Homo sapiens: one gene and its partners. The protein of the gene in region 4 purifies or fractionates together with the protein of the main gene of each other region. This does not show direct contact. Each region holds a gene or a part of one and is shown on either strand. Other genes may lie near its edges.

The links.
Region 1: the proteins of MED9 (region 4) and GPN3 purify together in Homo sapiens (co-immunoprecipitation; 2 studies listed by BioGRID and IntAct, with this or other methods). This does not show direct contact.
Region 2: the proteins of MED9 (region 4) and CCNC purify together in Homo sapiens (affinity purification with mass spectrometry; 5 studies listed by BioGRID and IntAct, with this or other methods). This does not show direct contact.
Region 3: the proteins of MED9 (region 4) and POLR2B purify together in Homo sapiens (affinity purification with mass spectrometry; 4 studies listed by BioGRID and IntAct, with this or other methods). This does not show direct contact.
Region 5: the proteins of MED9 (region 4) and MED25 purify together in Homo sapiens (co-immunoprecipitation; 3 studies listed by BioGRID and IntAct, with this or other methods). This does not show direct contact.
Region 6: the proteins of MED9 (region 4) and MED1 purify together in Homo sapiens (affinity purification with mass spectrometry; 9 studies listed by BioGRID and IntAct, with this or other methods). This does not show direct contact.
Region 7: the proteins of MED9 (region 4) and MED12 purify together in Homo sapiens (affinity purification with mass spectrometry; 6 studies listed by BioGRID and IntAct, with this or other methods). This does not show direct contact.

Annotation. Positions count from the first base shown.
Region 1 is NC_000012.12:110,455,122-110,458,257, forward strand, and holds part of GPN3 (GPN-loop GTPase 3), read right to left. Parts: intron 2,514-3,136; coding exon 2,389-2,513; intron 810-2,388; coding exon 694-809; intron 562-693; coding exon 465-561; intron 1-464. UniProt on the Homo sapiens protein: Small GTPase required for proper localization of RNA polymerase II (RNAPII). May act at an RNAP assembly step prior to nuclear import.
Region 2 is NC_000006.12:99,555,161-99,558,660, forward strand, and holds part of CCNC (cyclin-C), read right to left. Parts: intron 3,389-3,500; coding exon 3,337-3,388; intron 1-3,336. UniProt on the Homo sapiens protein: Component of the Mediator complex, a coactivator involved in regulated gene transcription of nearly all RNA polymerase II-dependent genes.
Region 3 is NC_000004.12:57,027,396-57,030,895, reverse strand, and holds part of POLR2B (DNA-directed RNA polymerase II subunit RPB2), read right to left. Parts: intron 693-3,500; coding exon 497-692; intron 124-496; exon of another isoform or gene 1-123. UniProt on the Homo sapiens protein: Catalytic core component of RNA polymerase II (Pol II), a DNA-dependent RNA polymerase which synthesizes mRNA precursors and many functional non-coding RNAs using the four ribonucleoside triphosphates as substrates.
Region 4 is NC_000017.11:17,487,000-17,490,360, forward strand, and holds part of MED9 (mediator of RNA polymerase II transcription subunit 9), read left to right. Parts: intron 1-3,361.
Region 5 is NC_000019.10:49,824,789-49,828,288, reverse strand, and holds part of MED25 (mediator of RNA polymerase II transcription subunit 25), read right to left. Parts: intron 1-3,500. UniProt on the Homo sapiens protein: Component of the Mediator complex, a coactivator involved in the regulated transcription of nearly all RNA polymerase II-dependent genes.
Region 6 is NC_000017.11:39,423,764-39,427,263, forward strand, and holds part of MED1 (mediator of RNA polymerase II transcription subunit 1), read right to left. Parts: intron 976-3,500; coding exon 864-975; intron 59-863; coding exon 1-58. UniProt on the Homo sapiens protein: Component of the Mediator complex, a coactivator involved in the regulated transcription of nearly all RNA polymerase II-dependent genes.
Region 7 is NC_000023.11:71,132,096-71,135,595, reverse strand, and holds part of MED12 (mediator of RNA polymerase II transcription subunit 12), read right to left. Parts: coding exon 3,390-3,500; intron 3,220-3,389; coding exon 3,058-3,219; intron 2,752-3,057; coding exon 2,640-2,751; intron 2,474-2,639; coding exon 2,384-2,473; intron 1,240-2,383; coding exon 1,130-1,239; intron 884-1,129; coding exon 748-883; intron 505-747; coding exon 343-504; intron 1-342. UniProt on the Homo sapiens protein: Component of the Mediator complex, a coactivator involved in the regulated transcription of nearly all RNA polymerase II-dependent genes.

The DNA of each region.
Region 1 (3,136 bases), on a different chromosome or scaffold from region 4:
CCTAATTTTTTTTTGTTTTTGAGACAAAGTCTTACTCTGTCGCCCAGGCTGGACTGCAGTGGCATGATCTCAACTCACTGCAACCTCCGCCTCCCGAGTTCAAGTGATTCTCCTGTCTCAGGCTCCCGAGTACTAGGATTACAGGCGCACACCACCATGCCCAGCTAATTTTTTTTTGTATTTTTAGTAGAGACAGGGTTTCACCATGTTGGCCAGGCTTGGTCTTGAACTCCTGATCTCAAATGATCAGCCTGCCTTGGCCTCCCAAAGTGCTAGGATTACAGGTGTGAGCCACTGCACCTGGCCTAATTTAAAAAATTTTTTTAGAGATAGGGTGTCACTATGTTGCCCAGGCTGGTCTTGAACTCCTGGACTCAATCTTGCTGCCTTGGCCTGCCAAAGTGCTAGGGTTACAGGCATTAGCCACTGCACCTGGCCAAAAAATCCAAACTTTAAAAGCTTACCAGTCCACATATAGCTTTAGTCAGTTTCTTGAATTTTTTGCTTCTTAAGTCACTTGTAGAATCTTCTAATAAAGAATACATGTCTGGATCTAAAAATCTTTAAAAGACAGAAAGACTGATGAATTCAGGAGACTAGGTTTATAAACCAGCCAAACTTCCCATCTAAATAAAACAGAAGGTTCATCTCTGCAACTGAGATCTGATAATAATGGAAGAACAGTGAACTCACTTCTCAATTTCCTTTTTTGCTTTTTTACTCAGCAGATCCATTTTTGTCATGATGTTGACTTGCGGAATTTCTAGAGAGATCATGGCACTCAGGGCTGCCAAGATGCCAGAAATAAACTGAAGGAGGAAACAGAAAAGGGAAGATGAACTGACTGTTGCCAACAGTTACCTGGTCTGCATAAAGAGTCTTCTATTCCTCACTGGAACAGAACTGGCCTAAATAAAAGAAATGCAAGCTGGACGTGGTGGCTCATGCCTGTAATCCCAACACTTGGGGAGGCTGAGGCGGGCAGATCACCTCAGGTCAGGAGTTCAAGACCAGCCTGGCCAACGTGGTGAAACCTTGTCTCTACTAAAAATACAAAATTAGCCAGGCATGGTGGCATGTGCCTGTAATCCCAGCTACTCAAGAGTCTGAGGCAGGAGAATCACTTGAACCCAGGAGGCGGAGGTTCCCGTGAGCCAAGATTGCGCCACCACATTCCAGCCTGGGCAACAACGGCAAAACTTGGTCTCAAAAAAAAAAAAAAAAAAAAAGAAATGCCAGTTCAGAACATGTGGAAAAGGCAAAATTATTTATATTTTATTAAAAGTAATGCTAGCCATATAGAAAAAAATGTTCCCAAATCATTGGGAATCAAATGCTTGATTCTTGGTTCCCAAAGGTGAGGGAAGATATAGATAACATACAGTGATCACAAATTTCAATTTAGACAGCATTTTAATTTCCTTTCCCATCTAATATTCCTTAAGAGCTATTAATAAAAAATTTGATCTTGGTAGTTCATAAACTGGACAAAAGGTCCTCAGAAAATTAAAAATAGACTATTTTATAAAATAGCCATCTGCTTCAGTTTTTTCTCCCCCACTACTTCCTCTTTTTTTTTTTTTTTGAGACAGAGTCTCACTCTGTCACTCAGGCTGGTGTGCAATGGTGCGATCTTGGCGATCTTGGCTCACTGCAACCTCTGCTTCCTGTACTCAAGCGATCCTCCCACTTCAGCTTCCCAAGTAGCTGGGACTACAGGCATGTGCCACAACGTCTAGCTAATTTTTATATTTTTTGTAGAGACAGGGTCTCACTCTGTTGCCCAAGCAGGTCCGAAACTCTTGGGCTCAAGCAATCCTCCTGCCTTGGCCTCCCAAAGTGCTAAGATTATAGCTGTGAACCACTTCACCCAGCAACCTCAGTTTTTTTCTTGGTAAGCAGTTCCTCCTAAATCTCTATGATATAATAATTTACTATTTTTGATTAACAACATGTTATAATTTAATAATAAAAGGGATAAAGTAACTCTGGAATCATTTGTGAAATGTTCAGAATCACACAATAATTAAAGGAACTGTCATCTGCTTGAACTCATAGTTTAAAAATCTTTAAGAGAACTTTGGGAGGCCAAGGCAGGTGGATCACTTGATGTTTGAGGTCAGGAGTTTGAGACCAGCCTGGCCAACATGGTAAAACCCCGTCTCTACTAAAAATACAAAAATTAGCCAGGCATGATGGCACACACCTGTAATTCCAGCTACTCAGGAGGCTGAGGCACAAGAATCACTTGAACTGGGAGGCGGAGGTTGCAGTGAGCTGAGATCACGCCACTGCGCTCCAGCCTAGGCAACAGAGTAAGACTCTGTCACACACACAAAAAAAAAAAAAAAAAAAAAAAAAAAATCTGTAAGAGATTTAGCTTCAGACCTTGAATGACTCCACCATGAACTGAGAATCAACAAGAAAAACTCCACAGACTCGGAACTCCCACTGCTCGAGCTGCTGGACCAGCTGTTTCATCACAGGCAGGTGAGTGTACAACTCAATCTGACCTACATGAAGAGTATTGCAAGAATTTTAGAAATAGCAAGTATGTTAAATCATCAAGTTAGAGGAAACAAATTTTCCCCATAAGATGGACAAAAATAAAAGCCAACACATTTTTAAGGGGCCCACAGCCTCTCAAAGCAATCATAAAACCTAAGGTACTGCCACCATAGGAATCCCTAACTATTAAGTTTTATGTAGAAAATGAGGTTCTCTGGTTGGGCAGGGTGGCTCATGCCTGTAATCCCAGCACTTTGGGAGGCTGTGGCAGGTGGATCACTTGAGGCCAGGAGTTCAAGACCAGCCTGACCAACATAGTGAAACCCCATCTCTACTAAAAATACACAAAAATTAGCCAGGCGTGGTGGTGCGCGCCTGTGGGATGCTGAGGCACAAGAATTGCTTAAACCCGGGAGGAGGAGGCTGCAGTGAGCCAAGATCACGCCACTGCACTCCAGCCTGGGCGACAGAGTAAGACTCTGTCTTTAAAAATAAAAAAAAAGAAAGAAAGAAAGAAAATGAGGTTCTTCACACTTTAGTTTTCTGCCAATCAATATGAGTGTTATTGGCCAGATGCCATGGTTCACACACCTGTAATCCCAGCACTTTGGGAGGCTAAGGTGGGAGG
Region 2 (3,500 bases), on a different chromosome or scaffold from region 4:
ATGTGTAGTTCCTTTTGCCTTTACTCTTACACTCTTAATCATTTCCAAAGCTACTTATGTCAACACCTTTCCCCCAATTCCCTTCACTGAAGTTGTTTCATATATTTTTAATATAGTTAGACTATTCCTTTCTCAGCACCTACTTGCTTCTTAATTCCTTGCAATCTGGCTTCTACCTCCACCCCCACATTGTTAATGACACTATGTTCTCTCTCAAAGATGTTTTTTTCTTTGGTTCACATCTTTTTCTATGCAGCATAAGACATTGTGGAACTCTTTTTTTTTTTAATTTTTAGGGACAGAGTCTTACTCCATTGCCCAGGCTGGAGTGCAGTGGCATAATCACAGTTTACTGCAGCCTTGAACTCCTGGGCTTAGGCAACCCTCCCACTTCAGCCTAGTTGAGTAGCTAGGACTACAGGTGTGTGCCACCATGCCCAGTTAGTTTTTCTTTAATTTTTTGCAGAGCTGGAATCTTGCTATGTTGTCCAGGCTGGTCTTGAACTCCTGTTCTAAAGCAATCCTCCTGCTCCAGCCTCCCAAAGTGTTCGGATTATAAGCAGGAACCACCATACCTGGCCTGTGCAACTCTTAAATGTTATCAAATTCCAAATTTCTACTGCTGGCCTCACATTTTTAAGAGGATGTTCTACTAACATATTTATACTTAGAATGTCAAAGATTAAATTTAATTCTTTTCAGAACTCACTTATTCTCTTTTTCAGTACCAGCTTCAGCTCCCCAACCCCCAGGCAAAAAAACCTCAAAACACATTTCTGACTCTTCTTAAATCCCTTCTTTTTATAAGAACTGCTGACTCTATCGCTCAAATCTGGCTTGTTTGTTCTTCTTGCTGGCTGCCAATATTCGTTTAAGCCTTCATTAGTGTTCACTGGGATGACTTCAGCAACTTAAAAATTATTTTTTCCACTTTAAACTTGTTAGGTTTTATTTCTCATAGCACCCTGTGGTAAGTGACAGCACTCAATACAGTTTGCAGTTTTACTGTATTTCAGAAGGTTTTTGTTTTTAAATTGTGTTAAGATATACAAAATTTTTGCAAAACTGAAACTCTGTATCCATTAATCACTCCCTATACCACCCTTCCTCCAGCCCTACCATTCTACTTTCTATCTTTATTAATTTGACTAAGTATTCCATGTAAGTGTAATCACACAATATTTGTCTTTGTTACTGGCTTATTTCACTTACCATAATGTCCTCAAGGTTCATCCATGTTGTGGGATGTAAATAACTTCAAAATTTGTCTAATTCTACCTGCCCTCTCCTCCAATTCATCTTACATAATTCTGTCAGATTTACCTTCCTAATGCACAATGCTAGCATTACCCTCATGTGTGAAAATAAATAAAACTGGCCAGGCACAGTGGCTCACGCCTGTAATCTCAGCACTTTGGGAGGCTGAGGTGGGTCAGATTTACCTTCCTAATGCACAATGCTGGCATTACCCTCATGTGTAAAAATAAATAAAACTGGCCAGGTGCAGTGGCTCACGCCTGTAATCTCAGCACTTTGGGAGGCCTGAGGTGAGGAGTTTAAAACCAGCCTGGCCAAAATGTTGAAACCCCATCTCTACTAAAAATACAAAAATTAGCCCGGCGTGGTGGCACACACCTGTAATCCCAGCTACCAGGGAGGATGAGGCAGGAGAATCGCTTGAACCTGGGAGGCAGAGGTTGCAGTGAGCCAAGATCGTGCCACTGCACTCCAGCCTGGGCGGCTGAGCGAGACTCCATCTCAAATAACTAACTTTCATTACTGTCAATAGAACAAAGTGCAGATTCCTTCATTTAGCATCGAAGGCCCTCTATTAGCTGAAATTAGGTAAGGAGTTTTCCCCACTATTTCCTTACTCACCATTCAGTTAATCTAACTCATGAGCTTTCCCTATTTGACTAAACTATTCAGTGTTCTTAGACTGTCTATCTCTTGCATTTCCCCAGTTCAACTTCCTTCACCAAGTTCTACTTAATCCTTTCTGGATTCATGAAACAATCTTTTCCCACCCAAAACATTCACAGCATTCTCTGTAACTCTCTTATACTATTTATTTCCTTCTGTATTAATATTTTTATGTTTCTGTCTTCTTTTTTTGTCCTTAAATTCCTTGTATTTTACCTTGGTACCAATGCCACTGCATTGGCACAGTGTTTTCCAGTGATAATGATGTTGTTGTCATTGAAGATGATGATGATGATGATAGCCCCTAAAGTTTACCAAGTATTGTGGACCAATATATGTCCCCCTCCAAAATTCGTATGTTGAAGCCCTAACTCCTAGTACCTCAGAATGTGACTGTATTTGGAGAGAGGGTCTTTAAAGGGATAAGATTAAATGAGGACAGGCCAGACATGGTGGCTCACACCTATAATCCCAGCACGTTGGGAGGCCGAGGCTAGCGGATCACGAGATCAGGAGTTTGAGACTAGTCTGGCCAACATGGTGAAACCCCGTCTCTACTAAAAAATACAAAAATGAGCTGGGCATGGTGGCACATGCCTGTAGTCCCAGGTACTCAGGAGGCTGAGGCAGGAGAATCACTTGAACCCAGGAGGCGGAAGTTGAAGTGAGCACTCCAGCCTGGGCGACAGAGCGAGACTCTGTCTCAAAAAAAAAAAAAAAAAAAAGAAAGAAAAAAAAAAGATTAAATGAGGACATAAGAGTGGGGCCTAATTCTGTAAGACTATTGTCCTCACATGAAGAAGACAGCAAACCAGGAGTGTGTGTGCTCACAGAAAGGTCCATGTAAGAATAGCCAGACACCTTGATCTTGGATTTCCATGCTCTAAAACTGTGAGAAAATACGCTTCTGTTGTTTAAGCCACCTGTTCTGTGGCATTTTGTTATGGCAGCCTCAGCAAAGTAACATACTAAGCAAGGCACTGTTCTAAAAGCTTATATTAACTCATTTGGTCCTCATAACAACCCAACAACACAGGAACGGGTTTGCACATAGATATTAATATCTACCCATAAGAATGACATAATAGTCATTAGAAAACAATAAAATACAATAAAATTCGGAAACAGAATTTTTTCTTTACTCTTACAAGATTAAAAGCCACTGAGTTGATGTTTTTGGATTGATAATTACTATCCATTTTAACATTAAAAGTAATATCTTTATATCTTTTTAAAAAAAAACCTTTTAGCTTGATTTTTTTGCCAGATACACTAGATATAAAGTTATCCTCAGGAAATTTAATAAAGCCAACCAATCTCATATGTCTCATAAACTAAAAAAAAAAAAATCTATGTACTCTGGAGCTTTCTTTAGAATTACATCCTTAAAGCAGATATACTTTTTGCACTTACATACAGAAGTAGCAGCAGCAATCAATCTTGTATTTGAAACTACTCCAAATTCCTAAAGAAAGAAAAGCAGGTACATGTTAACCCAATGAATCTAAGGGTATCTGAACTCTATTCAAAACAGGATTTCCTTGCTCCTGTTTACAATCTGTTCACCTTCTAACTAC
Region 3 (3,500 bases), on a different chromosome or scaffold from region 4:
AAAAGAAAAAACAAATGGTAATTAGCAGAATTGTATTGAAGTGACCCCACTTCTCTACCCCAGAAAAAGACAAAGATCTGGTACTGTAGATAATGAATAAATGAGTGGAGCTGAGAACACACATTCTGCTACCTCAGCTTATGGTGGTTCTTTCTCCTAGTAGGCTTTGGTATTTTACCCATTCTGCCAGACATAATTTATATTCACCCACCTCAACTAAAAGGTTTTCAAAAACTCATTGTTTAAAATCCCTTGTACAAAGTCTTATTATTTCCAAAAGATGAATAGCTTAGAGAAATTACCACACTAAAACCTAAACTGGTTTTTAGAAAAATCAAATTATCTTTTCCTTATTTAGAACTCGGAATCTCACAGAAGCATGCTATCAAAATTGTGAAAATGCCAATCTGTTCTGCCACACTAATTCTGCCTGGATAATCAGACCAACACAGTTTCCTCTAAACAAATATCAACTGCCAGTAAAGTCTATACACACCTGGGTTTTATTGCGGCAGCCCCTGCATTCATATGTATGGGTCCTGGTGTTGGCAATCGCCATTATTCCACAAAGATTGCAAACATGAACCTGATATGGATCTGATGCCTCAAACAATCTTTCCCTTAAAAACTGGGCTGCTCCATGGGCAATCTGACAATCTCGTTCCATTTCTCCAAAACGCAGGCCACCATCACTGTTAAGAGAAAAAAATTATTACTTTGTACTTATTTTTTATTATAAACACCGCCTTGAATAATGGCAAAGGTGGAGAATAATATTTGCAAAGACGGATAACTAGGCTCTAATTTTTATACCCTAGCATTCTCTCTATTGGTGGGGAGAGGAGAAGTCTACCAACTATTTGACGTGCATTAGAAAGTCCCCAAATGGGCTAAGCAAAGTGGCTCACCCCTGTAATCCCAGCACTTTGGGAAGTGGACTGGGTGGATCTCTTGAGCTCAGGAGCCTGGGCAACATGGCGAGACCCCATCTCTATTTTTTAACAAATAAAAATAAAAACAGAAGGTCCCCAAATGGAGTGGATACATTAGATTCTTAAGTAGAGCATTTAATTTTCCTCATAAGACACAATAAAGCATAGAGTGGAGGTTCATCATGCTATCATTTAACTTTCTAGAATTCAACTCTATACTAAAAAAATGAATAATGAAAAAGACAATCTAAATAAGGCAGCTTGTCAATGGAATGACTGTCCCAGGCAATCAACCTTGAAATCATAAATACATGTTGGCTGAAGTAATGGAAAGAACAGGTAAATGATAATAGGTTTCCCCAACATAAGAAGTGAAATAAATGCATTATTCAGATGGCCAGGCAAATAGATGGTGATGGCTTCCTTAACATACTTAATATCCAAAATATACAAAATAAAACCAATGGGTTTATAATGATATTCCACCAAAACAAAAAAATCATTGGTCGACTTTGGACCACTGATCTGGATCATTAGACAACCAGCTCACTATTTTGAAAACTGGTAAATAAAAAAAGAGAATCAAGCATTTATTCCTGCCCTTACTATAAGAACTACATCACTAGGTAACCAAACAGTTGAGGAAACAAAGTTTTAGAAGTAGTCTGGCTAAAAACTGAAGAAGGACTGAGAAAAAATAGAATGGTATCAGTTGGAAATCGCCATTTAATTAAGGTCTTTAGTAATAGCTGCTAAAATCATAAAAAGAAAGGCAACCAGATACTGGAAGTATAGAATACCACCTATAAAGTATTACTGCCAAAAAACTCAAACGCTAAATCTCAAGCCTCAAGATCTATTTACAAAAAACAAAAAACAAACAAACAAACAAAAAACAGCAATGCACAGCATTTGGGATGCAAGCAGCAAAATTCAGTCTCAAGCCCTGGACAAACAGTCCAGGTTGTTCAACAAACAAATTACAAGGGGAAAAAAAAGGTTGGAAGGCAACCAATAAATTCAAAAAAGGACTTATGAGACACTATCAATCAATTGCAAAGCATGGACCTTATCTGTATACTGATTAAAACCAACAAACCTTTAAAAAACTTATGTGATAATCAGGGAAATGTAAATCTGGATATTTAATACTAAGGAGGTACTGTGGTTAGGTTTAGTGTCCTAATCTTTTAGAGCAGAGGTTCTCAGAGTGTGGTTCATGGACCGCCTGAGAGTCAAAGCTATTTTTAATAGTAATACTAACAACATATATTTGCTTCTTTCACTGTGTTTACATTTGCACTGATGGTGGAAACATGAATAAAACTGCTGACACCTTAGCAGAACTCAGGGTAGCAGAACCAAACATTACTAGCAGTCATATTCTCCATTCAAGTGAAGGGGAGAAAAGCCAGTTTTACTTAAAAATGTCCTTAATGAAGCAGTGAAAATAAATAGTTTTATTAAACCTTAACCCTTGAGTATACATCTCTTTCATATCCTGTGACTTTTAAAAAAATGAAAGTCCTCAACCAGGCACGATGACTCACACCTATAATCCCAGCACTTTGGGAGGCCAAGGTGAGAGGCTGGATTGAGCCCAGGAGTTCAAGACCAGCCAGAGCAACACAGTAAGACCCAGTCTCTATATAAAAAATAAAGTAAAATAAAATGGAACACTTCATAAGCACTTCTACTGCATAGTGAAGATGACTGTCTTGAACAAAAGCACTTGCATGATTCTGAACTAGTCCCTTTTAACATGGAGTATCTTTTTTACTCAAATAGCCAGCTGACACCAACTATGTTAACTCATCAACATGTTAACACCCATGATGTTAATTCAGACTTAGAATTAAGTTGACGATGTTGTAGATATTTGGCAGACAAAGAAATGAACAAAAAGAAATGAAAGCAAACGAAAAAAGTAAGTCTTTGAGGAAAATAATTTTAAGTATTTGTTGAAAATGATGAAAATTGTGAGCTTCAAGCAAAAATCAGAATTTTAGGAAACTTCTATGCACCACTATGGGCTTGATAGCTTCCTGATATATTTAAAGGCTTTTCTAATGACATCAGTAGTCATATTAACAAATGCAATTTTTTTATTATAATGAAGTGTGTTAACATTTGAAAATCTACGTAACTCAGCAAACCAATATTTTCCAAATGACCAATTAGGATGCTACAAAATATGCATGTGTAAAAGATACATCTGAAGTACAAGACAAACCAATGAACTTCAAACATAAATACAGAAGGTTCATTCATATGGTTTCAGTTTCTACATCAAAACCAACCTTTGAGAAACTACAACTTACCGTTTTGGTGTAGTATCAAAAAAATATCCACAGGCCAGGCGCCTTGGCTCATGCCTGTAATCCCAGCACTTTGGGAGGCCAAGGCAGACAGGTGGATCACTTAAGCTCAGGAGTTTGAGACCAGCTGGGAAACATGGCAAAACCCTGTCTCTACTAAAAAATATAAAAAATTAGCTGGGCTTGGTGGTGCATGCCTGTAGTCCCAGCTACTTGAGGCTGAGATGGGAGGATCACCTGAGCCTGGAAA
Region 4 (3,361 bases):
ACTCTGTATCTAGCTCAAGGTTTGTAAACACACCAATCAGCACCCTGTGTTTAGCTCAAGGTTTGTGAATGCACCAATCGACACTCTGTATCTAGCTGCTCTGGTGGGGCCTTGGAGAACCTGTGTGTCCAAACTGTATCTAACTAATCTGATGGGGACGGGGAGAACCTTTGTATCTAGCTCAGGGATTGTAAATGCACCAATCAGCGCCGTGACAAAACAGGCCACTCGGCTCTACCAATCAGCAGGATGTGGGTGGGGCCAGATAAGAGAATAAAAGCAGGCTGCCGGAGCCAGCAGTGGCAACCCGCTTGGGTCCCCTTCCATGCTGTGGAAGCTTTGTTCTTTCACTCTTTGCAATAAATCTTGCCACTGCTCACTCTTTGGGTCCACGCTGCTTTTATGAGCTGTAACACTCACCGCGAAGATCTGCAGCTTCACTCCTGAGCCCAGCGAGACCACGAGCCCACCGGGAGGAACGAACAACTCCAGACATGCTGCCTTAAGAGCTGTAACGCACACCGCGAAGGTCTGCAGCTTCCCTCCTGAGCCAGCGAGACCACGAACCCACCAGAAGGAAGAAACTCCGAACACATCTGAACATCAGAAGGGACAGACTTCAGACGCGCCACCTTAAGAGCTGTAACACTCACTGTGAGGGTCCGTGGCCTCATTCTTGAAGTCAGTGAGACCAAGAACCCACCAATTCCGGACACACAAGTACATAAGGGTATAAGTACAAGATGTTCACTGTCATTCTAGTACAGTACAACCACCCATGAATAGCCAGGGTAATTTCGCTGTCTAATTGTATATGTGTTAACATGGAAGGACATCTGAGGTGCCTTGTTAAGTAGAAAAAGCAAGAATGAGAACTATGGATGGTCACATTTCTGTCAGAACAAATAAGAAAAGTTTGTGTGTTTTGTATGCTGTTGTACATTTCAAAGCCATCTGAAACAGTGGACACCACATGTTAGCAGAGGTTATCTCTGGAACAAGGGGTTAATGAGATTTCCCTTTTCTAAGCCTTGGTTGTCTCATTTTTGAATTTTTTCCCTCAAGTACCTATTACTGTCATTTTTTAAAAAAGTGATCTTAGAAAAATGAAAGCCACTGGAGTTAGTACCGTGCGAGGAGAGCCTGTGGGCAGAGGAATGGACTGGTAAGGGCTGGTCTGAGGGCAAGGCAGCTGGGACAGAGTGGAGTGTGAGGCACAGTGCATGGAAGTTGTGAGGAAGAAGAAATGGGAAACTGAGTCAGATGCCACCAAAAGGTCAAAAGAAATGACTGTCAGATTTGGGAGGAAGTCTGTGTCAGTGGTTCTAGCAGAGTTATTGGCCAGTTTGCATCTGTACTAAAGCATCCATGCTAAAAAGAAGAACAAAGAAAATCAGGGCATGATTCTCAGACACCTGCCTAAAACCCTGTGATGTTTGCCTTTGAGTCTGGTGACACGGATACAACTGTCTGTCAGACGTGGGAAGGATGCTCAGAGGATCACCCCTGGCGGTAGTATTTTTGTCCACTCTTTAAAAAAACCATAGTAGGGGGCTGGGTGCGGTGGCTTACGCCTGTAATCCCAGCACTTTGGGAGGTTGAGGTGGGCGGATCACCTGAGGTCGGGAGTTCGAGACCAGCCTGGCCAACGTGGAGAAACACCATCTCTACTAAAAATACAAAATTAGCCGGGCGTGGTAGCGCATGCCTGTAATCCCAGCTACTCAGGAGGCCGAGGCAGGAGAATCACTTGAACCCGGGAGGCGGAGGTTGCAGTGAGCCAAGATCGCACCATTGCACTCCAGCCTGGGCAACGAGTAAAACTCTGTCTCAAAAAAAAAAAAGAAAAAAAGAAACCACAGTACCACAGTAGTTGGGACCAAAGTGCTCTGACCTTGCCTTGTTTGTACGATGTTCATCCTCCTTGACCTAGTGGCTTTTTTCATTCCTTCTATAGTTGGCCGATGACTAACCTTGAACACAAAGGTAGGCCCACTTAGAGCTTTCTGCTTTTATTCACTCGGTATTTGGTCCTGTCCCTTTTCTTTTGGCTTGAATATTTCACAGTCATCCTGGCTTAGCAGATGCCCACTTCTGAATAGCATGTTCTCTTCACTCCAGGAGTTCCATGCTATTTACCTCCACCAACTAGGGCAGTTGGGCTTGCAGAGGGGCCTCCCTGTGGGCTGCATGGCCCCTTTTGGCTCAGCTGCCCTCCAGGCGGCTTGTCTTACAGCTCCTTTTTTATTATCTGAAGACTGTCTCCTTTCCTGAAAGTTCACCAAAGAACACGCAACCCTTGCTATTTGGGGGTTTTCAGAGATGAGCATCTTAAACATGACCCACTTTCAACTTTCAGAACTAAATTTTCTTTTGGGCCAGGTTATGTTTGCTTCAAGAATGGGATTATCTGTCATCCACATTTCTATTTTAAGTACTTTTTTGTTTGTTTTACCATGTCCTTTGAGACTCATGTGAGTCGGTTTTTTTAAAAACTATATTTTAATTTTAAAACTTCCTTGGGACTTAAATTCGTAACGGTATGTTAACACGCATGCCATCCGAGTAGAAGGATTTCAGAAGTGCAGATGGTTTCTGTCCACATTTGTGGATCAGAGCTGAGACTTCAAAGAATTAAAATAAAAGACGTTCCCTATTTGCTTCCTTCCAAAGGATTTTTAGTTCTCATGAATACCAGTTCATCCTCTCTAGAATCTGCGATAAGGTATACTGTTAATGGTGTCTCTCAGTTGAGGGCATCATTTCCTGGCCTCTCATTTCCTGGAAGAAGTGATTGATTCTCCATACCCTCCCTCTGAGTTTAGAGCTGTTGGTAAATACTGAGCTGGCCATGGTGGCCATCTGATTTGCAAGGTGTGAGACGTAACTGATGGATCGCCAGGAAAGATGGATATTCTGCCTGCGTAAGCAGAGAAATGATGAATAGTAAACATGAATTAGCACCATCTGGGTTGAAATTTCCCACTACGGATGAACATTTATTTGAAAAAATTAATGATCATTGACAGTTTTTCCCTCTTATGCCTCAATGGCTTACTTTCAGAACAGCTTACTGAATTGCCTTTTAGTTTTGGTCTCAACCACTTGTTTTCAAAAGCTCATCCACTTACTAACTTTTAAAAAACGTATAGGAAGCTGAGTGTGGTGGCTCATGCCTGTAATCCCAGCACTTTGGGAGGCCGAGGCAGGTGGATCACCTGAGGTCAGGAGTTCAAGACCAGCCTGGCCAACATGGTGAAACCCTGTCTCTACTAAAAATACAAAAATTATCCGGGCGTGTTGGCATGCGCCTGTAATCCCAGCTACTCAGGAGGCTGAGGCAGGAGAATTGCTTGAACCG
Region 5 (3,500 bases), on a different chromosome or scaffold from region 4:
CACAGCACCAGTCCCAGACAGGACAGGGGACATTTGCTGTCTGTGTTTTTTTTTTTTTTTGAGATGGAGTCTCGCTCTGTCGCCCAGGCTGGAATGCAGTGGCATGATCTCAGTTCACTGCAAGCTCCGCTTCCTGGGTTCATGCCATTCTCCTGCCTCAGTCTCCCGAGTAGCTGGGACTACAGGTGCCTGCCACCACACCTGGCTAATTTTTTGTATTTTTAGTAGAGACGGGATTTCACCATGTTAGCCAGGATGGTCTCCATCTCCTGACCTCATGATCCACTTGCCTCAGCCTCCCAAAGTGCTGGGATTGCAGGAGTGAGCCACCACACCCGGCCGACATTTGTTGTCTTTAATCATGAGGACTGGGAGGGAATGGGAAAGGGCTGGGGACCCCAAGCCTAGGATCCTGTGCTGACTCCAACCCTGGAGTGACTGACTCCATGCCCAGCCTCCTGCTGTCCCCTCCCCTCTCTGGGCTGTCTGCTCCAAATCAGTCCTGGCCCCACTTCACCTTCCCAGCCAGAGACGGGGGCCTCCTCTGTCCTCCTAGTCTTATGGGTTCAAGTGTGCCCCCTTCAAAAAGACAGGTTGAGGTCCTAAGCCCCAGTACCTCAGAAGGTGACCTAATTTGGAAAGATCTTTACACAGGTAATCGAGTTAAATTGCGGGCCCTAATCCACTATGGCTGGTGTCTGTGAAAAGGAGAAACGTGGACACGGACACACACACAGAGGGAAGACACAAGGACACAGAGAGACACAGGGAGAGGCCATGTGAGGACGGGTGATGCAGCCTCAGCAGGCACCAGGAAAGGCAGAAGGGCCCTTCCCCTGTAAGATTTCAGAGACAGCCTGGCCCTACCACCTGGATTTTGGACTTCCAGCCTCCAGAACCCTGAGACATCAATTTCCATTCTTCTGGCCAGTTTCTCATACTTTGCTACGGCAGCCTGGGAAACTAACACACACAGACTCTCGTTTCTCCTCCGCCTGATCTGCAGTCGCGTCGCAGCATCCGTCCCACATGGGTTGTGGCCCGGGGATGGCCTCTCCTCAAGGGCAGCTGTGGTTGCCACCATTATTCCGGTCACGTGGTCGTGAGAGGCTGACCTTTGCTGCAGGGGACGTGTGTGGAGACCGAGCACCCCTCTGAGGGTCTTGAGGGCCCTGTCCCCCTGAAGTGTGGTCTCTGATCCTACCTCTCCCACAGGCGGGGATGGGGTCTGAGTCCTCTCTTACCCCCAGGCTTGCCCACCACAGCGGGGCACATGTGAGGCCTCAGGAAATGTAGGCTAAGTGAATGAACGTCTACAGGCCCAACCGTGTCCATCAAGACTGGAACCAACCCAGGCCCTCGGCCCGGCATCGGCCCAGCATCCGAGGCCTCCGAGTCCTGCACCCCGTCCATCTCTCCTGCTCCATGCCCGCACCTATAGGTCCTCTCAACTGACAAAGCCCAGACATCCAGGTCTCTGCATGTGCTGGAACACACCCATTCCGGCCCGGATGGAATCCAGCTAAACTACGACACCCATCCTGGTGTGCCCTCCTATAGGAAGCCTTCCCTACATGCCACCTAATTTTACGGCCTGCCCTTAGTCACATCATAGATCACCCGATACTGCAGCTGTCAAGCTTCTCTCCGCACCCTGTGCAGCCCTCCAAGAGAGACACCAAGGCGTCTGACCCTAGGTCACACAAGGCCTAGGAACCATCTGCTGAGTACTCAGTGCACTGGTGGCCTGGCAGGGCCATGCAGCGGGGCTCTCCGCTTCCTGCCTGAGTTCTCGCACTGATTTCCTTCCAGTCCCACTCGGCCCGGCCAGTGAGCACACTGAGCCCCTGAGCCTTCTTCCTGCTCTCAGGGCACTCGGGCGCTGCTCCCAACCCACCACACACTTCCCAGCCCTCCTCTTCCTAGCCATCAAAACAGCTTTTGTTTTTGAGACGGAGTCTCGCTCTGTCTCCCAGGCTGGAGGGCAGAGGCACATCTCCGCTCACTGCAAGCTCCGCCTCCCGGATTCACGCCATTCTCCTGCCTCAGCCTCCCTCGTAGCTGGGACCACAGGTGCCCGCCACCACGCCCGGCTAATTTTTTTAATTTTTAAGTAGAGACGGGGTTTCACGGTGTTATCCGGGATGGTCTCGAACTCCTGACCTTATGATCCACCCGCCTCGGCCTCCCAAAGTGCTGGGATTACAGGCGTGAGCCACTGTGCCCGGCATCAAGACAGCTTTGCACGCAGAAACTTCAACTGTGTGCAAAGAGTTGGGGTGAACCAACTCTGGACCCAGCTGTTCTGCTACAGGTGAAATTAAGCCAATATTTTCCTGGGCCTTTCTGGGACTCGAGCCAAAACCACCCTGGCTGGGGATGGGGGGATGGGGGAATGGGGAGCTAGTGCTTCATGCATATGGGGTGTCCTCTTTGGGGTGATAAATTTTTTTTTTTGAGATGGAGTTTCGCTCTTGTTGCCCAGGCTGGAGTGCAATGGCACGATCTCAGCTCACCACTACCTTCGACTTCTGGGTTCAAGTGATTCTCCTGCCTCAGCCTCCCGAGTAGCTGGGATTACAGGCATGCGGCACCACGCCCAGCTAATTTTGTATTTTTAGTAGAGACAGGGTTTCTCCATGTTGGTCGGGCTGGTCTCGAACTCCCGACCTCAGGTGATCCGCCTCCTCACCCTCCCAAAGTGCTGGAATTACAGGCATGACCCTGTAAAACAGTTGGAAGTGACTGGGTGCAATGGCTTATGCCTGTAATCCCAGCACTTTGGGAGGCCGAGGTGGGCGGATCACTTGAGGTCAGGAGTTCAAGACCAACCTGGCCAAAGTGAAACCCTATCTCTACTAAAAATACAAAAACCAGCCAGACATGGTGGTGGGTACGTGTAATCCCAGCTACTCGGGAGGCTGAGGCAGGAGAATCACTTGAACCTCGGGGGCAGAGGTTGTAGTGAGCTGAGATCATGCCACTGCACTCCAGCCTGGGAGAGAGAGAGAGACTCCATCTCAAACAAAACAAAACAAAACAAAACCCTTATGAGGAAAAGTGTGATAAACTAACCAGTTTGAGATGCTAAAACTTGCGTTTCTCTTATTGAACACTAAGTACAAGTCATGTGCTACAAGCTCAAAGGGCGACATGTAATAAACATTTTGTCAAAGAAATGTGGAAAACTTGAACAGAAGAAGCACTATGGCTGGCTGCAAAATATGGCTAAAATATCAAGTTTATGATAAATTCCAAATAAACCCCTTGATATGGCAGACACAAAATAAAAATAAAAGCCCCCTAGGTGACACAAGTGGGCTCTGACTTGGTGTTCCCAAGTCCTCTAACTTACTCCCATTTGTTCTACCCAGTATCATTCCCCGGGGTCTCTGCTGCCCGCTTTCATCGGCTAACAGGTGCCTGGAGCCCCAGGAGGTCAAAATGAGTGAATGTTAACAGCATCCGGCCATGACCAAGGGCTCCCTACACACGGCCTG
Region 6 (3,500 bases), about 22 Mb from region 4:
GAAACAGGCAGGAAGATCAACACTGTTGGCACTGGTGATTGAGGAGAAGGAAGGGGTCCTTCAAAAAAAAGAGGGTGGAAGGGTTGGATTCTGACTTGATATAAAAATGAAAAACCCAAACACCTTTTTTTTTTTTGAGACAGATTTTCCCTCTTAATGCCCAGGCTAGAGTGCAATGGCGTGATCTTGGCTCACTGCAACCTCTGCCTCCCGGGTTCAAGGGATTCTCCTATCTCAGCTTCGTGAGTAGCTGGGACTACAGGTGCCCGCCACCACGCCCGGCTAATTTTTGTATTGTTAGTAGAGATGGGGTTTCACCATGTTGGCCAGGCTGGTCTTGAACTCCTGACCTCAGGTGTTCCACTTGCCTCAGCCTCCCAAAGTGCTGGGATTACAGGCGTGAGCCACCATGCCTGGCCACAAACACCTATTCTTAAACATGTATGTATCACACAGACACATAAGTACAAACTCTCAAAAGCTCACTCTGTGAAACTTCCTACCCCCAATTCCCAGACATGCTATTGGTTAACACTGTAGAATTTAATCAAACATTTATCCTGAGGCATGTTCTCCAGTTATTACTCCAATGTAACTAATGAACGTAAGATAAAAGGGGGCACTCATTAAGCCAGAGGAATTAGCACAGTTCTCTTCTTTCCCTTTCAGTGCAGAGAATGTGTTCTACGAGCCGACTTTGGAGAGGAACACTCAGATATCAAACAAAAGAGAAACCAATGAATGGATAAAACAAAAGGCCAACCTCTAGAAATTCAAGTGGGGTAACAGCCAGGTTAAAACTTGTTACATACTGCGCTTTGAGAAAAATTGACTTTGCTACTCTAAAATTATATTTAACTTACCATTTATTGTCAACTGGATGTGACCCCATAATTAATGGTGCAATTGGGAGTTTGTACACAGCAGATGTTCCTTCAATTGTCACTGATGCATTCATGCCCAAAGATCGAGAAACTGGGGATAGGAAAGAAAAAGGGTATTCCTCAAAGTAATACAAATGATGGGAATCACAGTATGTTTTAAGAGGTTAATTTTTGCAATATTTGTCAGCTATAATTTATCAGATGCTGTTATTCCCTTATTTATTTATTTATGTATTTATTTATTTATTTTGAGACAGAGTCTTGCTCTGTCACCCAGGCTGGAGTGCAGTGGCGCAATCTCAGCTCACTGCAAGCTCCACCTCCTGGGTTCACACCATTCTCCTGCCTCAGCCACCCAAGTAGCTGGAACTACAGGCGCCCATCACCATGCCCGGCTAATTTTTTGTATTTTTAGTAGAGATGGGGTTTCACCATGTTGGTCAGGATGGTCTCGATCTCTTGACTTCATGATCCGCCCATCTTGGCCTCCCGAAGGACTAGGATTACAGGTGGGATTACAGGTGTGAATCACTGCGCCCAGCCTATTTATTTATTTTTTTATTGGAGGCAGAGTCTCACTCTGTCCAGACTGGAATGCAGTGGTGTGATCTCGACTCACTGCAATCTCCACCTCCCAGGTTCAAGAAATTTTCATGCCTCAGCCTCCCACGTACATGGCATTACAGGAATGCACCACCATGCCTGGCTAATTTTTTTGTATGTTTTGTAGAGATGGGGGTTTCATCAGGTTGGCCAGGCTGGTCTCAAACTCCTGGCCTAAAGTTGATCCACCCATCTCAGCCTCCCACAGTGCTGAAATTACAGGCATGAACCACCAGGCACGGCCTGTAGTTCCTATAAAACTTAGAAATCAGGCCAGGTGTGATGGCTCATGCCTGTAATCCCAGCACTTTGGGAGGCTGAGGCGGGTGGATCACAAGGTCAGGGGTTCAAGACCAGCCTGCAGAAGACGGTGAAACCGCATCTCTACTAAAAACACAAAAATTAGCCAGGTGTGGTGACAGGCGCCTGTAATCCCAGCTACTCAGGAGGCTGAGGCAGGAGAATCACTTGAACCTGGGGGGCGGAGGTTGCAGTGAGCCGAAATCGCACCACTGCACTCCAGCCTGGGCGACAGAGTGAGACTCTGTCTGGGGAAAAAAAAAAAAAAAATTAGAAATCCTGGAAGTTACCTTTCTAATCAACCAATAATTTTTGTCAGTAAATAAAACACAAGAAACAATGCAGTCCAAAAACATCATTTTTGAAGGGTTCAGTATCAATATTTACTTATTTTTTCTTCAGAATGCATTTAAGTAGGATCATAATAAAAGGACAGGCTGGTGCACTGGCTCACACCTGTAATCCTAGCACTTTGGGAGGCCAAGGCGGGAGGATGGCTTGAGCCCAGGACTTCGGGGGCTGTAGTGAGCTGTGATCAAATCACTGTACGCCAGCCTGGGCAACACAGTGAGACCTACCCCGTCCCCCATGCCAAATTATAATAACAATAAAGGAGCCTGACGCCAAGGCTCGCACCTGTAATCCTAGCACTTTCGGAGGCCAAGACAGGTGGATCACTTCAGGTAAGGAGTTCAAGACCAGCTTGGCCAACATAGTGAAACCCCATCTCTACTAAAAATACAAGAATTAGCCGGGTGTGGTGGTGCATGCCTGTAGTCCCAGCTACTTGGGAGGCTGAGGCAGGAGAATCACTTGAACCCAGGAGGTGTAGGTTGCAGTGAGCTGAGATCGCACTACTGCACTCCAGCCTGGGTGACAGAGTGAGACTCCATCTTAAATAAATAAATAAACAAACAAACAAACAAACAATAAAGGGATGGAGTCAATGAGTGAAGCTACAAAGGGACCTAAGGAGGTATTAGTCCATTTCACTTTTTTTTGAGACAGAGTTTTGCTCTTGTTGCCCAGGCTGGAGTGCAATGGCACAATCTCGGTTCACTGCAACCTCCGCCTCCCAGGTTCAAGCGATTCTCCTGCCTCAGCTTCCTGAGTAGCTGGGATTACAAGCATGGGCCATCACGCCTGGCTAATTTTGTATTTTTAGTAGAGACAGGGTTTCTCCATGTTGGTCAGGCTGGTCTCGAACTCCTGACCTCAGGTGATTCGCCCACCTCAGCCTCCCAAAGTGCTGGGATTACAGGCATGAGCCACCGCGCCCGGCAGTCTATCTCTCTTTATCTTTTCTTGTATCAAGGGCAAACAGAAAATAATGTCCATTACCATAGTTCTTTAATTTAGAAAACTTCACTTTTTTTTTGATCAGTAACTCACTACGTTGCCCAGGCTGGAGTACCATGACTATTTACATGCACGATCATGGTATGCTACAGTCTCAAACTCCTGGGCTCAAGCAATCCTCCCGCCCAAACCTCCCAAGTAGCTAGGACTACAGGCATAAACTACCAGGCCCATCCTTCTACACTTTTTAAACAATGAGTAAGCTGATTATCTCAGGTCAGATCGTTTATATCTCTTCTTATGAGTTGCTCATTTACTTATTTATTCAAAAGTACTTTTTTTCTTTTTTTGAGATGGAGTCTCGCTCTGTCACCCAGACTGGAGTGCAGTGACGCAATCTTGACTCACTGCAAC
Region 7 (3,500 bases), on a different chromosome or scaffold from region 4:
AACACAGAAATAAAAGAGATACAGGCTGTCGGCCAGATAGATGGGTGGGGTAGGACATGGGGCAGGTGGAGCAGAGGAAAGAGGAGGGTAGGGTATTGAAAAATGGGTGGTATGTTAAAAGGTGAGGGCAGGGTGAAGGAAAGAGGGTGGGACTTCAAAGATGGAGATGAAATGTAAGGAAAGTTAAGTGATTTGCTCAAAACCCCAGAGATGGTGTTCACCGGCAGAGACTGATGGGCTCCTGAATCTGATGAGTCTGTTGGAGCTACAAAGCTGATGCAGGCAAAGTTCTTGCCCAAAGGGGAAAAAAGGCAAGGGACACGGGCAGACAATGGAACATGCCTCCTTCTTGAAGATGGAATCGAAGCCAGCAATCTTGTTGCCCTTGGTATCGATAAGGGAGCCCTGTGGCTCACACGTGATGACATCTCGGGTCTGCTTGGGCAGTGGCAGCAGCTGGCGAACCTTTTCCAGACTGTCTGACTGGCGCTCCCCCAACTCCTTCTGCAGGCACAGGAAGATGGGACAAGAGTTCAGAGATACAGAAAACAGGGATGGGAAGTCTCAGGGGACAGCACAGAACCTGGCACAGAGAAGACCCCCACTCAGTAAATGCTCACGGCATGAGTAACAAAGAAAAGGCAGACGTGAGAAGGAAAGGTAGAGGGCTCCAGCCAGAAGCAAGTTCCTGAGGCTGGACAGCAGATTCCAGTAACCGCAAACCTTGCCCCCGCTTCCTCTGCTTACCTGCAACTTCTTCGCCAGGTTCATGTATGCACGCTTGTTTTCCTCCATGCTACCTTGCGAGATGCTAGACATGTCTGCAGCCAATGTCCCATTGATGAGCACGCTCAGCATGTCCAACACAGTAGTGAAGAGCTCACTGAGACAGGAAGCCAGAGAGAAAACCAAAGAAGAAAGAGGTGAAGATAGAAAAAGGCCTCAGCAGAGGACACAAGCAGGGAGAGGTGCTTAATATGTCATCCCAAGGGCACCAAAACTGTATGGGGAGCCCAGGGCCACGGAGTCCACAGTAACAGCCACACCAATCTCAGTGGGTGCACCTGGCATGGGAGTAGGGGGAGCTTCTTGGGTATGAAACTGCAGGGAGCGGGTGGGGATGCTTTACTTGTTGGACTGCATGTCGACAGTGCCGCTGATGATGATCTCCAGGAGGAGCATGGCCCACTCCGTGGTCTGCTGGGTGCTGCGCTGCACCGTGTCAAACATGCCCCCCACCTGCCAGGGCCACAACAAGTCAGTCAGATGGCTCAGGGACAAAGGCCAGAGTTTCAGGAAAGCTTAGTTCCAATCTGAGTTGGGACGCCTGAGTTCATGCTTGAGTTTTTTTTTTTTTTTTTTTTTGAGACGGAGTCTCGCTCTGTCACCCAGGCTAGAGTGCAGTGGCGCGACCTCGGCTTACTGCAAACTCCGCCTCCCGGGTTCACGCCATTCTCCTGCCTCAGCCTCCCGAGTAGCTGGGACTACAGGCGCCTGCCACCACGCCCAGCTAATTTTTTTTGTATTTTTAGTAGAGACGGGGTTTCATCGTGTTAACCAGGATGGTCTCGATCTCCTGACCTCGTGATCCGCCCACCTCGGCCTCCCAAAGTGCTGGGATTACAGGCGTGAGCCACCGCGCCCGGCCATGCTTGAGTTGAGCCTATGATTTGCTACATGATCTCAAGACAATGACGGAATTCTTGACGTCTCTAGGCCTCTGTTTCCATACTTAGAAAGTGATGGGAATTGGACAGAATGATTTCCAGGATTCCATTCAACATTCCACAGTGGGTTTCCAGTGCTTCTAGGGCCCAGTCAGAATCTAGGATACTGAGGCAGAGGCCCTGCAAGGATCCAGGGTACATAACCTATTGGACCATGACCACAGTGATCCAGCCCCCTTAACCACTTTCAGTCCCTGCATACTTTCAGAGAACAAGGTTAATACTTCAAGACTCAGGCTGGGCACGGTGGCTCATGCCTGTAATCCCAGCACTTTGGGAGGCCGAGACAGACGGATCATTTGAGGTAAGGAGTTCAAGACCAGCCTGACCAGCATGGTCAAACCCCATCTCTATGAAAAATACAAAAATTAGCCAGGTGTGGTGGTACACACCTGTAATCCCAGCTACTCAGGAGGTTGAGGCACGAGAATCACTTGAACCCAGGAGGTGGAGGTTGCAGTGAGCTGAGATGGCGCCACTGCACTCCAGCTTGGGTGACAGAGTGAGACTCTGACTCCAAAAAAAAAAAAAACCCTTCAAGACTCAGAATAACCTGGGGCCTCTATCCTTACCCCCATTCTCCCCAACCTGAGGCTTTTGCACTCCGCATTTCCAGCCCTACCCTCTTCCTTCTTCTCCCCAGCTGGCCTTCTCACCAGGTTGAGCCGCAGTTTGAGTGCCTCATGCATAAGCTGCTTTGGTTTGCAATCATCTAAGTACTGGTCATCTCGCCAATTATTCACAATCTAGAATAGAAACAAATAAAATATGCAGCTCAGGGATCTTCGTGTTTCCATCCCACAGCAGCCAATATGTTTATCAGAAAGTACTGAAGTTTCCAAGTACAGAGTAACCCCTTAGGTGCATCCTTCCCTGACCTCCTGCCCACCTCCATGGCCCAGAGATCTGTACCTGGTGCACCTGGCTGTAGAGGGAGGTAAGGAGTCCCTCGCGTTGTTCATCCTGCCCTTTCAGACATGTTAGCACCAGCGATAAGAAGGGCTGCTGGCTCAATAGGGACATGCTAGAGACAAGAGAAAGAAGAGAAGAGAAGAGAAGAGAAGAGAAGAGAAGAGAAGAGAAGAGAAGAGAAGAGAAGAGGAGAGAAGAGGAGAGGAGAAAAGGGAGACTGTGGGTTGGGAGTCAACTTCCAACCTCATTCTCCAGACTACTCTCTTAAGATCTAGCCTCTTGCTCAGCCATGCCCACTCTTATCCTCTGATTTTCCACTTTCCTATGATGCTTCTCCTTGGCCCATTTTATTCTTCCCCGGGCCTGCCTCTTCTCCTTTCTACCCCTCAATCTTGGTCCACTCCCTAAGCCCCTTTACCTCTTCTGCTTTTGTCGATCACGTTCTTTGCGTGAAGAGGAACCCAGGTGCTGACCCTTCTCCAATTCTTCCCCAGCAGCCTTTAACACATGTCCCTGGACTGAGGTGGGCAGTTTAGCAATGAGGGGGGCCACCAGCCATACACCAGAGCGCTCTAGAGAGCTGGAGAACAGACAGAGGACACAGGGTCACAGGGGAGCCAGGCAAGGCTGGAACAATCTATCCTCTCCTTTCCCTGATGGACATGCTGGCATCTCCACGCATCTGATATCACTCACGCTACCAGCAGATAAACTCCTAAGGGGATGGGTCCTAACATGTTTCTATCCGACCTGAGCACAGGCTTGGTCTTGCTGCTGCTGGGCATGTTGCTTGCAGTACTTCCAGAAGATGACCCTGTCTCTGCTGACTGTTGGAAAACCTCGATTGTGGCCTTGGCGATG